4 separate regions of the Homo sapiens genome follow, and regions 1, 3 and 4 are each linked to region 2. Evidence: fine-mapped expression QTL. A gene starts in region 2. Each other region holds a variant in brackets. All regions are shown on one strand. Distances are from middle to middle. Region 1 overlaps TNFRSF14 (TNF receptor superfamily member 14). Region 2 holds the start of PRXL2B (peroxiredoxin like 2B). Region 3 has its middle 7.3 kb from the start of TTC34. Region 4 has its middle 30 kb from the start of PLCH2.

What was found.
Region 1: its variant is fine-mapped to the expression of PRXL2B in whole blood (INTERVAL, PIP 0.90).
Region 3: its variant is fine-mapped to the expression of PRXL2B in whole blood (TOPMed, PIP above 0.99).
Region 4: its variant is fine-mapped to the expression of PRXL2B in nucleus accumbens (GTEx, PIP 0.95).

What each region holds. Positions count from the first base shown.
Region 1 is chr1:2,559,724-2,562,223 of GRCh38, reverse strand. TNFRSF14 (TNF receptor superfamily member 14) reads right to left here. Exons shown (of 8, transcript NM_003820.4): 4 at 2,246-2,401; 5 at 1,510-1,600; 6 at 409-551. Among named protein-coding and RNA genes, the nearest start is that of TNFRSF14-AS1, 4.0 kb to the right of the region's middle. The variant C/A (reference allele first, on the strand shown) is at 1,022.
Region 2 is chr1:2,585,390-2,588,123 of GRCh38, reverse strand. It overlaps PRXL2B (peroxiredoxin like 2B), which reads right to left and starts at 1,347. Exons shown (of 7, transcript NM_152371.5): 1 at 1,176-1,347; 2 at 829-1,033; 3 at 332-383. The coding sequence starts at 1,238. RefSeq lists an enhancer at 1-539.
Region 3 is chr1:2,807,673-2,810,406 of GRCh38, reverse strand. No RefSeq gene overlaps it. Among named protein-coding and RNA genes, the nearest start is that of TTC34, 7.3 kb to the right of the region's middle. The variant G/A (reference allele first, on the strand shown) is at 1,341.
Region 4 is chr1:2,444,629-2,447,362 of GRCh38, reverse strand. It overlaps a transcript of PLCH2 not described here. Among named protein-coding and RNA genes, the nearest start is that of PLCH2, 30 kb to the left of the region's middle. RefSeq lists enhancers at 1-102, 938-1,772. The variant C/T (reference allele first, on the strand shown) is at 1,590.

The DNA of each region.
Region 1 (2,500 bases), 26 kb after region 2:
TGAATGAATGAATGAATGGCCTTACTCTCCTCAATGAGGACAAAGCCTTGTCCCCAGCAGGGCGGCTGTTGACCCTCAGCCCAGAGCTTCTCCCAGCTGAGCAGGGCCTGTCCTGCTCCCCACATCCCACAGGGGGCAGGCAGGAGCACAGGGTCATAGAGTGCGTGGGCAGGGGTGGCTGAGGGCTCCACGGTCAGGGGTCCCACCTTCCCTTCCCCCAGGGAGGCCAGCTGACACCTGGGCTCTGGCCACAGCAGAAAGCCCACCTGCCCCAGCCTGCAGTGGCTGCCCTGGGAGGAGCCGCGGATCCTGGAAAAGCTCTGGGGCCACCTCCCAGGCTTGGGGTGACAGAGCTCCAAGAGGTGACGGCTGGGGACATGAGCCCTGATGGGGCCGCCGTGTGCTCACCCCTTGGCTTTCTTCTTTTCACACATATGATTAGGCCAACTGTGGAGCAAACAATGACGATGACGAGGCTCCCTGAGAGAAACCACCATACCCAGTGGGAGCTGCTGGTCCCAGCTCCGGCCTTCGTCACCAGCCAGCTGCACCTGCGGGAGTGGGGCCGAGGACGTGGGAGAGGCAGGTGCAGCGCCCAGTGTTCACTCAGCCTCAGGGAGCCTCCCTGGCTCCCAGGGCCCCAGGCAGTGAAGACAGGTCCCAGGGAGGCTGGGCTGGTGGCAGCTCCAGGATGAGACCTCAGAGGTCTGTCTGACTTTTCCAAGCTCGGCTATGGGGAGGTGGAGAGAAGGAAGGAGGAGAAGAGAAACAAGGAGAGACTGGGCAAAGGAGACAGGACGGCAGAGGGAGAGGGGAGAGAAGCGGGAGGCAGCCAGCAGTGCAGAGACCCCAGAGCACGGGAGACCAGTGGCAGACAAGGACAGAAGGTAGAGGGAGAGCCAGTGTCGGGACAAAAATGGTTAGAGCTGGAGATGGACAGGACTGAGCTGGGGCCAGAGGACGAGGAGGGCAGAGCAGGATGGAAGGCCCCACCGCCCCCTCCCTGGGGCAGCCATCCCTG[C/A]TCCATCCCAGGCTCCGCTGGGGGACCCCAGCTCCTCCCAAGAAGCTCTGAAGTCTCAGGTCAGTTAGGGGCCCAGGGTCAGCATTTGAAGGTGTCCTCCCGAAGGTGGACAAAGAGCAGAGTGTTCACTTTCCCCAACCCCTGAAGCCCAGGGGCCCTCCCATGGCCCTGACATTCAGGGACACCCACAGCCCCAGGGGACAGGGGATCTGGAGGCAGCCTCCCTCTGGGCCTGCTTCTGGGAAGGCCCATCCTGAGCCTCCAGGAAGCTCAGATCTGATGAGGCTTTGTCTGGGCCCATGGAAGGGGTTATCTGGGGCACACAGGCTTCAGCCCTGCAGCTCTCCTGGACGCAGGCATGTGACCAGGGTGCCGCTCAGGGTGGGACCTTCAAGCCTTTCTGCTGGAGAAGACGGTCATCTCCCAGGGAAGCAACGTGGAGCCCCCTCCCCAGGGCACAGAGCTGGGCCTCCCCCGGGTTCACTTACTTGGTCTGGTGCTGACATTCCTCCAGGGTCCCATTGGGAGAGAAGGTCCCCGGGGGGCAGTTCTGACACAGGGTGTCCTGACTCTCGGTGCCTGAGAAGAGAGGGACGGACAGAGGGGGCTGAGGGCACCAGGCCAGGAGGGGGCTGGCGGCTAGGGACTGCTTGTCTGTGAGCTTCTAGACCTGGGTGCTCTACGGGTGATGGGAGGACCAGCGGGGAGGGGCAGGCTCCCTGTCCAGAGTCTTGGAGGTGGGGCCTGGGGTGGTGGCTCTGGCTGTCCCGGCCTTGAGTAGCTGGGATCTCATGAGTCCGGGAGTCCCTCTGTGTCCACATCCTGCAGTGCTGCGGGGGCTGCCCGGCCAGATGCAGGCCAGGGCTGGACACTTACTCCTCCTAGACTTAGCTTGAACAGTGGCATTAACCATGGTCACTCCCATAAACCCAGGCTCCAGACCAGGGGCCCGAGAGCGAGGCCTGGGGACTGGGAAGTCCCAGAACCCCGAGGTGGAGCAACCTGGGGTGGCCCTTCCTTGCCCCTTCCCCTGCCTCCATCACCTGTTCCCCACTGGGCTGCTTCCAGGACAGGGCTGAAGTGGGTGGGCCTGGGGCTGGCCAAGGTTCTGTCTCACCAGGGCCCCTGGGCAGGCCATGCCGTCGAGGAAACCTGGGGCTCCAGACAGCGGGGCACTGGGGACCAGGGTGGAAATGGGAGGGGTGTCCGCCACCCACCGCTTACCTCCCTTCTGCACCCTCTGGCCCGGGCTGGAGGTGGCGTAAGCGCGGCACGCGGCGCAGTGGTCCCCGTCCTGGACGATGCAGAAGTGGCCTGGGCTGCAGCCACACACGGCGTTCTCTGTCCTGGAGCAGTTCCGGCTCGCGCGCAGGCCCATGGCTGGAGTCCAAGAGGAGGGGCTGAGAGGGGTACGTGGAGGCCGGGACACCATCCACGGGCCAGGACAGCATCCACAGGCCAAGGACTGCTGCCAGGGCG
Region 2 (2,734 bases):
GCTCAGCTGGCAACTGCCAAGCAAAGGAAGCAGCCTGTGGCACAGACACCAGAAAGCTAGGATGGCCCCTGATGGGCCACGAGGCTCCACCCCACGAGGTGGTCTGGACACCGAGAGTAAGCCCCGGACGAGGTGGCTCATTACAGTCACCCAGCACCCAAGAGAAGGCCTGGCAGAAGGGCTGGTCAACAGTGCCACCAGAGCCGCCTTGCCCAGGAAGGCCCGAGTGGACAGCACCACAGAGGGCAGCAGGGAGAGGAGGTGGCAGGGAGCGGTGGGAACCCCTGGGCCCCCCACCCCACGCTACCCAAGGGTTCCCGCCCCCACTCACCGCTTGAAGCCTAGCTCCTTGTAAAGCTGCTTGCTCTCATCCAGGTAGAGCTCTGGAAAGCGGAAGCCACATGTGTGTGCCCCAGGCGCAGAACCAGCCCCCAACCCACTCACCACAAAGAATCGCCCTCCTCCTTCCGACCCTCTGTTCCTCTGCCCACCCTCCGTGCTCAGCCCACCCCCGCAGGGCAGGGAGGGGTAAAACGGGGCTGAGTGTCCCCCCTCCCCTCAGAAGAGGGGCTGAGTCCCAGAGGCAACAGGTGGAGCCGGCGGGGCAGAGCTCGTCCAGACTCTGCTGCTGGGCCCAGGTCTGTGCAGGGCACCACCCAGCCACCAGCTGCGGGGCGGGGAGGCAGGGAGAGATGAGGGACGCTGACCCGTGGGCATATCAAGGCCGCTCCAGCAGACAGAAGGGCCGGGGTTGGGCAGGAAAGGGCCCCGAACGCCCTGAGCTTAGGGAAGGGTATGTGCGCCGCCGCGGCGGGGAACAGGACGCACCTCCCGCGAAGTAGTCGCCGTCCAGGAACTCCTGCAGACCCAGGGCCTCGGGCCCTACGCCCACCAGGCGCACGCCGTGTTGGTCCAGGAGCCCAGCAAGGCTGCTGAGGTCCTGGGCGATCCAGCGGCACACCACGCACCCGAAGCGCCGCAGCCCGGCCACCACGCACGCGTGCTCCCGCCACAGGCTCCGCAGCTCCACGGCCTGCCGGGCGGCTGGGTCATGGGCGCGCCCCGTTGCCCCCAGCCCCGCCCAGGCCCCGCGGCCCCCACCACCCCATCGCTGCCAGGACGCCCGGGCAAGGAGCCAGGGACGCGCCCACCGCCCTGCGTCCACCCGGCCTCACCTCCCCGGTCACCGCATGCTTCAGGATGCACGCGCCCACGCGAGCAAGGTCCACCGTGCTCATGGCGGCCGCTGCCAGCCCTGGTTCCCGGCTCCCCGACTCCCTGTTCCCCGCTCCCGGCTCCTCGCTCCTGGATCCCCGCTCCCGGCTCATAGATCCAGCCCCAAGCCCCGCCCCGAGATGCCCCGGTCCCGCCTTTCTTGCTGCCGCCGAGGCCCCGCCCCTTCGGGCTCGTCTCCGCCCCGGGCCCGCCCCCAAGATGGCCGCAGCGCGCCCCGGCCACGCCCCCGACCGCACCCCGAGCCCTGCTCCGCCCCCTCGGATTCGCCCCTAGTCCCGCCTTGTTTCCCCTCCTACTCCAGGCCAAGCCTCGAGATCGCGGCGCCAAATCCTGGGTCCGCCTGCTTCGGTCCCTCCCGCCTCCTCAATCCGGGCCTTGCGGGACAGTTGCTGTCCCGCGTCCTGGTCCCGCCCCTAGCCCCGCCTCTCCGTTGGGCCGCCGACTTGGACCCCGTCGGCCATTGGCGCAGCAGGCGGAGCTGGGCGGTGCGGCCCTCGGTGCGCGGTGCGCCTGTGCGGAATGCGGCGGGAGGCGGGCAGCCGGCTCGGGGTCGTCCCGGGGGGCGCCGGGGAGCGGCTGGGTACGGTGGGCCCAGGGGTGGTCCAGGGAGCGGCGGGGGTCTCCCTGCGGCCTCGCGCGAGACTGGGCTGGACTCAGGGTTGAGGGGAGAGGGTGAGCGCAGGGGTCGCGGGCATAGGGGACCGCGGGCCGGGGTCTCCCGCGGGGCGGGGGTCCCAGCAGTGGGGGGCGGGGGGGTGCGAGGGCTTAGCCTTTCCACGTGGCCTGGTTTTCGCTTGAAAATCCCCGCAAATGCGGCAGCATCTCAATTATACATGGACGCGATGTCTTTAATCATGAAATACTGTTCATGTCGTGCCGGTTGCATATCAGCTTTTAACCCGCCAAACCTTGGGGCGAAATAGACCCCGGGGAGATAAGCACAGCTCCCAGAAGTGCACTGCGGGTCAGGTGCCTGGCAGATGCGTCCTGTTCCTCCCCCACTGCAGCCCTGTGATAGCTTTTGTCACCGAGTTGGGGTGAGGGCCGGGTCACAGCTTCACCCGGCCTGGGCTCCCACCTGAGCGGGCCCGGCCTGGCAGAGTCTGTGCTGCTGGCACGGGTCCTCACTCCCCAGGCCCCAGGACAGCTCCAGGGGCCTGGGCGGGCTGGAGAAGGAAGGGGGAGCCCCCACACTGTATTCCAAATAAAGAGAGGCCCCGGGGGGGTGCTGCTGCTTCGCCTGTGCCCTCGCCCTGGGGTGGTGAAGGTCCAGACTGCGAAACGGAAGTCGTCACTATGTCAGAAAGGGCAAAAAGCAAAACAAGGAAGGGGAAGCACTAGGAGGGAGGAGCTGTGGCAGCTCCAGAGCCCAGGAGTGCAGCCCCCAGAGACCAGGGCTACCCCTCTACCGTCTCGGGCTGTGCAGGAGGGGCCCTCTACCCTCTGGAGTTGTGCAGGAGGGGGCCCCTCTACCATCTGGGGCTGGGCAGGAAGGGCC
Region 3 (2,734 bases), 220 kb before region 2:
CTGGCAGGAGGGAGTTCAGCTGAGCTCGGGGAACCGACAACCCTCAGTCGTGTGCACAGCAGGGGCTGGACACGTGGTCCTCGCCTGGAGGGTGCTGATGAAGTTACGGTAGCAGCGTTCAGTCCAGGAGCACGTGTACCCCCCCCCCCCCCCGCAGCCAGTCTCAGGCCTGGGACTGCATGGGCACGGCTAGGGGAGGGCGGGGGCTGCAGGCTGCCGGACCGAGGGGCACATGGAGCAGGGGCCAGGGCTCAGGAGGGCTCAGGGGGTCCTGGGAGGGCCAAATGTCTAAGCAGAGTCCAGGGAACCAGGAAGAAGGTTCTAGAAAAGGAAACTGACCAGGCAGAGGCTGGTGCCAGGAAGGAGGCAGTACGTCCCGTAATGCCGTGCTGTGGCCTGCTGGGCCCACTGTGACCAAGGAGCAGTGGGAGGTGAGGGTGGTGGAACCCAGGCCATAGGTTCAGCTGGGGCCACGGCCTCGCCAGGGAGTCCACGCGCTTCTCAGAGCGAGTTCTCCACTTGCTGCTCTGGACTCCCAGGAGGCTCTCGCTCAGGCAGATCCAGGCCGGATCCAAGGAATCGGACTCGCCTGCCATGGGGCCGGGCAGATACATCACTCGAGGCATCCCAGGGTGAGGCCCTAGGCCCAAGAGGGCGAGAACCACCCCACCCTACCTGCTGGCGGAGCCTTGGGCCAGGCCCACACATGACCGTGCTCAGCAGGCCCACACCTCCTTCCCATGTGGCACTTCCCAGGCCAAGGCCACAGGTCCCTTGAGGCGCAGGGCAGGTGGCTTTGCCCCATGTCCCCTCCCTTCTCTGGGTTTGTGTCCTCACCCTTGATAAGGCCACCTCCCCCTGTGCCAGGAGTGGCCTGTGCCAGTTGCTGGTGCTTGCCCACCCCCAGAGCCATCGGGCATGTTTCTGCTTCCCCATAGGAGACCTGAGGGCAGGGATGGCGGCCGTCTCAGCCGAGGCTGCACTGCCACTCCCCGGGTTGCCCCAGGATGGGAAGGCACGAGCAGCCGGCCACAGGCACCTGAGTCCAGGCTAAGCGGGCCAGGGCCAGCCCGGGAGACCCGAGCAGGACATGGTCAGCGGCCGAGCTGGGGGCTGTTTGCTGCTGCTGGTTCTAGTGCAGGGAGGGCGGGCACAGCCCCGTGTCCCCCAACTCTGCTGCGAGGCATGTGTCCCACGCCCGGGGATGCTGCCAGGTCCTTTCCCAGGAGGACCAGCCCCCCTCAATAAGTGGGTGCAGGGAACTAAGGGAAGAGCTGCAGCTCCCATGATGACGCGGACACGGCCTCTGCCACCAATCTCGCCTTTCCTGTGTGGGTGGC[G/A]ACACGCGGCGCCGGCTGCCACCTGCACAGAGCCATGGAGCCAGGCCCACGGCAGCCCCACCCACCCCAACCACACCTGCGAGGCCGGCAGCCCCAGCTCCTCCACAGCCCCAGACCTTCCACCGTGCGTCCCCACCGAGCTCCTCCTGTCTCCGTGGCCCAGTGAGGCCAGGGCACCATGAGGCTGCCTGGCAGGGTCCTCACCGCCCCCCTTCCCACCAGCACCAGGGCCCTGTGGCCCTCAGGCCAGTGAGTGACCCAGCTCCAAAATCCCACCCTAAGGGTCTGCTTTCCGAGACCACCTTGACCTGGGCTCCCCAGAAAGCACAGCCTAATGGGGGTGGGGGGGGCCTTGGGGCCGTTATCCTAACAGGAAGAACAGTCCCCCGAGCAGTGGTACTGATGGGACAGGGAAGCCATAGGAGGTGGCCCCGAGGAAGACAAGTCCCCAGGTGTCCCCCGCACCTGGCCCGGGGGACCCCATGCAGCAACCTGCGCCCGGGGCCTCTCTTGTGCAGCAGAAAAGGAGAGGCGCTCACACTCCCCACTCCTCCAGGCCCCCGGGTGTTGACTGCCCTGCAGGCTCTGGGCATGGCCCTGTGGCTGCGTCCTCAGGAACCCGGGCAGGAGGCAAGAGTCAGCCCTGCTGTGTTGGGTGGTGCCTGTCCAAAATCACTCAGAGCCCACATCAAACAAAGAGAAGGCCAGCAAGGCCCAGAGGGTCTGAAATGGAGCGTGGTGGGTGTGTGAGGCGGCAGGTAGCCGGCCAGGTATCTGGTTTGAGGATGCCAACATCGGACGGTGCGGGCGCAGGGCTGGCCTGTGTGTCTGCATGCTGTCCACGGCTGCTTTTGTGCTGCCACGGTTGAGTGGAATGTAAACTTTGCGATTGGAACCCTTTCCAAAAAACATTTTCAGCCCCCACTCTGGAGCGATTCATGGCCAGACGTGCCCCCCTCCACAGTGCTGGGAAGCCTGCTGCACGTCGGGCTGATCTAGGCACTGGGGAGCGGGGGATCAACGGGACATGTCCTGCCCCCGCAAGCCGGCACTCTTGCCAGGGAGACAGACAGGAACACGCCGACACTAGGCAAGAGCCTGAGCAAAAATACCATGGGAAAGGAGGACGGGATGGAGGCTGAATGGCGCAGTCAGGGTGGACGCCAGCGTGCACAGGGCTCTTTGTGATGAAAAGGCCCTGGAGCAGGACCTGCCCGGCGTGTCCAGGGGCAGCAGCGAGGCTGCGGCGTCAGGGCCCGGGACTCACCAGCTGCTGGGACTGCAGGCCTGGGGCAGGTTCCCATCTCTCTGTGCCTGGGCTTCCTGCTTGCTGAAACAGGGTGATGGTTCTCACCCCCACAGGGCTGTTCTGCAGGTGGGGGAGGGTGGGGCAC
Region 4 (2,734 bases), 140 kb after region 2:
CAGGTGTGTGCGGAACACAGGTCCAGCGATCCGGGAGAAGGAGCTGAAGGCAGAGTGGTCCTGGAGGATGCGGGTGAGGTGAGCAAATGGGCCTCCCCCCACAGACTTGGGGCCCCACCCTGCAGCCACCCTAGCCCTGGAAGCCCCTCAGGTTGCTCGTTTCTGCCATCAAGCCTGGCTCCTCCTGGAGCCTCACGCACAGAGTCTGATCTGCACTGGGAGCTCAGAAGGCAGGCATGAGGAGCCTGCTCCCATCTGCGGGGGTGGAGACCCCGGAATCGACACCCAAAGGCTGCTGGGAGCACATGAGGGGGTGGGAGAGGAAGGCAGGAAGAGGAGCCCTGAGGGCGGCTCTGAGGCTGGGGTGGGTACCCTCTGCCACCTCCACCTCCACCAGGCCACCGTGCTGCCTGAAGCTGGCCCCGGAAAGGTGCTTGTGCATGGGCACAGAGGTGTGCACACACACACGGGGCTGCAGGGGCAGGAGGAGGAAGGAGCCCCAGCCCAGACTCAGCCCAGCCCTGGGGAGCATGAGGCAGTGAAGGGATGATCACATTCCTGCCGGCTCTGACCCCTCTGCAGGCCCCGACCCCTCTGCCAGCCCCAACCCCTCTGCCAGCCCAACCCCTCTGCATGGGCCCAGGTTGGCCAGCTCTCAGCTGGGCTGGGCAGCCGAGGCAGCCTCCTTTGTCCCTTTGTGCTGGGCGAGTGGAAAGGACAAAAGCTGTTCTCCCGGCTGGCTAGCTGCTGCCGCCGGAGACATCTCCAGGAGCCCTTCCTCCCTCTGCCTCCAATGTGCGCCTGTTACACAACAGACCTAAGAATAATCCGGAGGGCGGTCGGAGTCGGAGCTGCCCCGCCTCCTGGGACCCCTGCAGCTGGGGGGAGGGAGGGGCCTGAGGCACACAGCTCCTGCTTCTGCCTGGGGCCCCAGTCTGTCAAGGGCCACCCCACCCCCAGCCCCGGGAGACCTGGCTACAGGGTCTTAACTCCAGCCTCAACCCCCAAATCGCAGGCAGGGCTGAGCCACAAGTGAATAGGGGGGTGAGTGGCAATGGAACCCCAGAATCCAGGGCCACTTGTGCCCAGGGGCCATTGGAGACAAGAGTCCCAGTGGGGCCTGTGACAGCCCCAGAGTGGGCAGCAGCGGGGAAGCTGGGCCTTCAGTGGGTACACTGATGTCCAAGCCCCCAATGGCCACCCCTTCCTGGCAGCCAGGGGCAGCACCCTGGCTAGGACTGCAGTGGACAGGGAAGCAGGACGGGGGTGGAAGCCCGGCCAGGCAGCGGGAGGGACCCTCTGGGCTGGTCCTCAGCCCCCCTCCCGTCGGCGTGCCCATCACTGGAGCAGGTGGCAGGCAGCTCTTGGGGCTCTGGCATGGGGCTCGGGCCAGGCTCCCTCCGTTCCCGGACAGACGGCACTGTGGGTGCGACAGCAGCTAATGAAGCGGTCCTATTAGGCGCAGAGTAACAGAAGATACACAAATTGGTCCGAAGCTCTTCATGTGTTGTGGACATTAAAAATTAAAATCCAATTACAACTCGTATTGTCAGACCTGGCTGCTGCGGCTTACGGCAATCCGTGTGTGC[C/T]GTGCAGATTATGTCACCTGAACTCCAGCAGCAGCAGTGAGGGCCTCGGGAACCGGGCTGCCAGGCCCCCACCACCACCTAGGAGGGTCTGTAGGGGGTCTCTCCTGCCCACCAGCTCCTCTGCCTCCCCCCTCTGGGCAGGGTCCCTACCTGGTCACCCACAGGAGGGGCCGCTGCCAACCTGTCCCCACCCTCCCCCGTACCCCCAGCTGTTCCCCACCCACAGCCAGCTCTGCCAGAGGCTGGACATCAGGCCTGACCCCAGCCTCATGCTCAGGGATCTGAGGCCAAGGCCACCAGACCAAGCCCCGAGCCCCGAGTCTTCTACACACTGTCCAGCAGACACTCCCACCAGTTCCCCGACCACTGCCCAGGCCTGTTCCAGCCTCTTCTCTCACTGCCCTGGTTTCCCTGGGGACATGCCAAGCAGGCGCCAGTCTCCCTCCCTGCCTCGTCCAGACGAGGCTGCAGGCTCAGCTCTCTCACCTCCCAGAGGGCAGGGCCATCAGGCGTTCAGCCTCAGGGAAGGGGCCTGTGGGGACCCTCAGCACAGCCACAGGCACCCACTTGCCCAGTGCACACCTGCCTCCCTCATCCTTTCCAGACCCCAGACCCTCCCCTAGGGCAGTGCGGAGAATGTGGCCCTGGCTTAAGTGCAGAGGGAACATAGTGGGGGCCAATTTAGAGACGACTTCTCCCATCAGCCCAGGGTCCTAGGGGAGACCAACAGGCTGGCTTCTGTCCCCACCAACCAAGCAGGAGATAGGACAGTGGCCTCCGCCCTCTGACTTGCCCCTCCCCGGCCTCCCATGGTGCCTGAATCCCCTCTGAGGCTGCACCTCGCTGAAGGAGTCTCTAGGATCAGACACCCAGGCAGGCAGACACCATGGGCTCCCCAAGTCAGGGGTGTTGGGGCACCGTGACCCCGCCTCCCCAGACCAACGTGTCAGGGGACGAAGGGGACACCGATCGGGTCCATTCTCCTGGAGGGAGAAGGCCATGGGGGAAGGGCAGTTCCAGTGGTCTCAGTGGTCACAGTGGGGATCAGTGGCCACCTTGGCTGCCTCCAGTGTCACCAGACAGTGTGGGAGGCGGGGAGCGGAGGGGAGGGGAAGCCTCTTATCTCCTTGGCATCTTCCTCCACC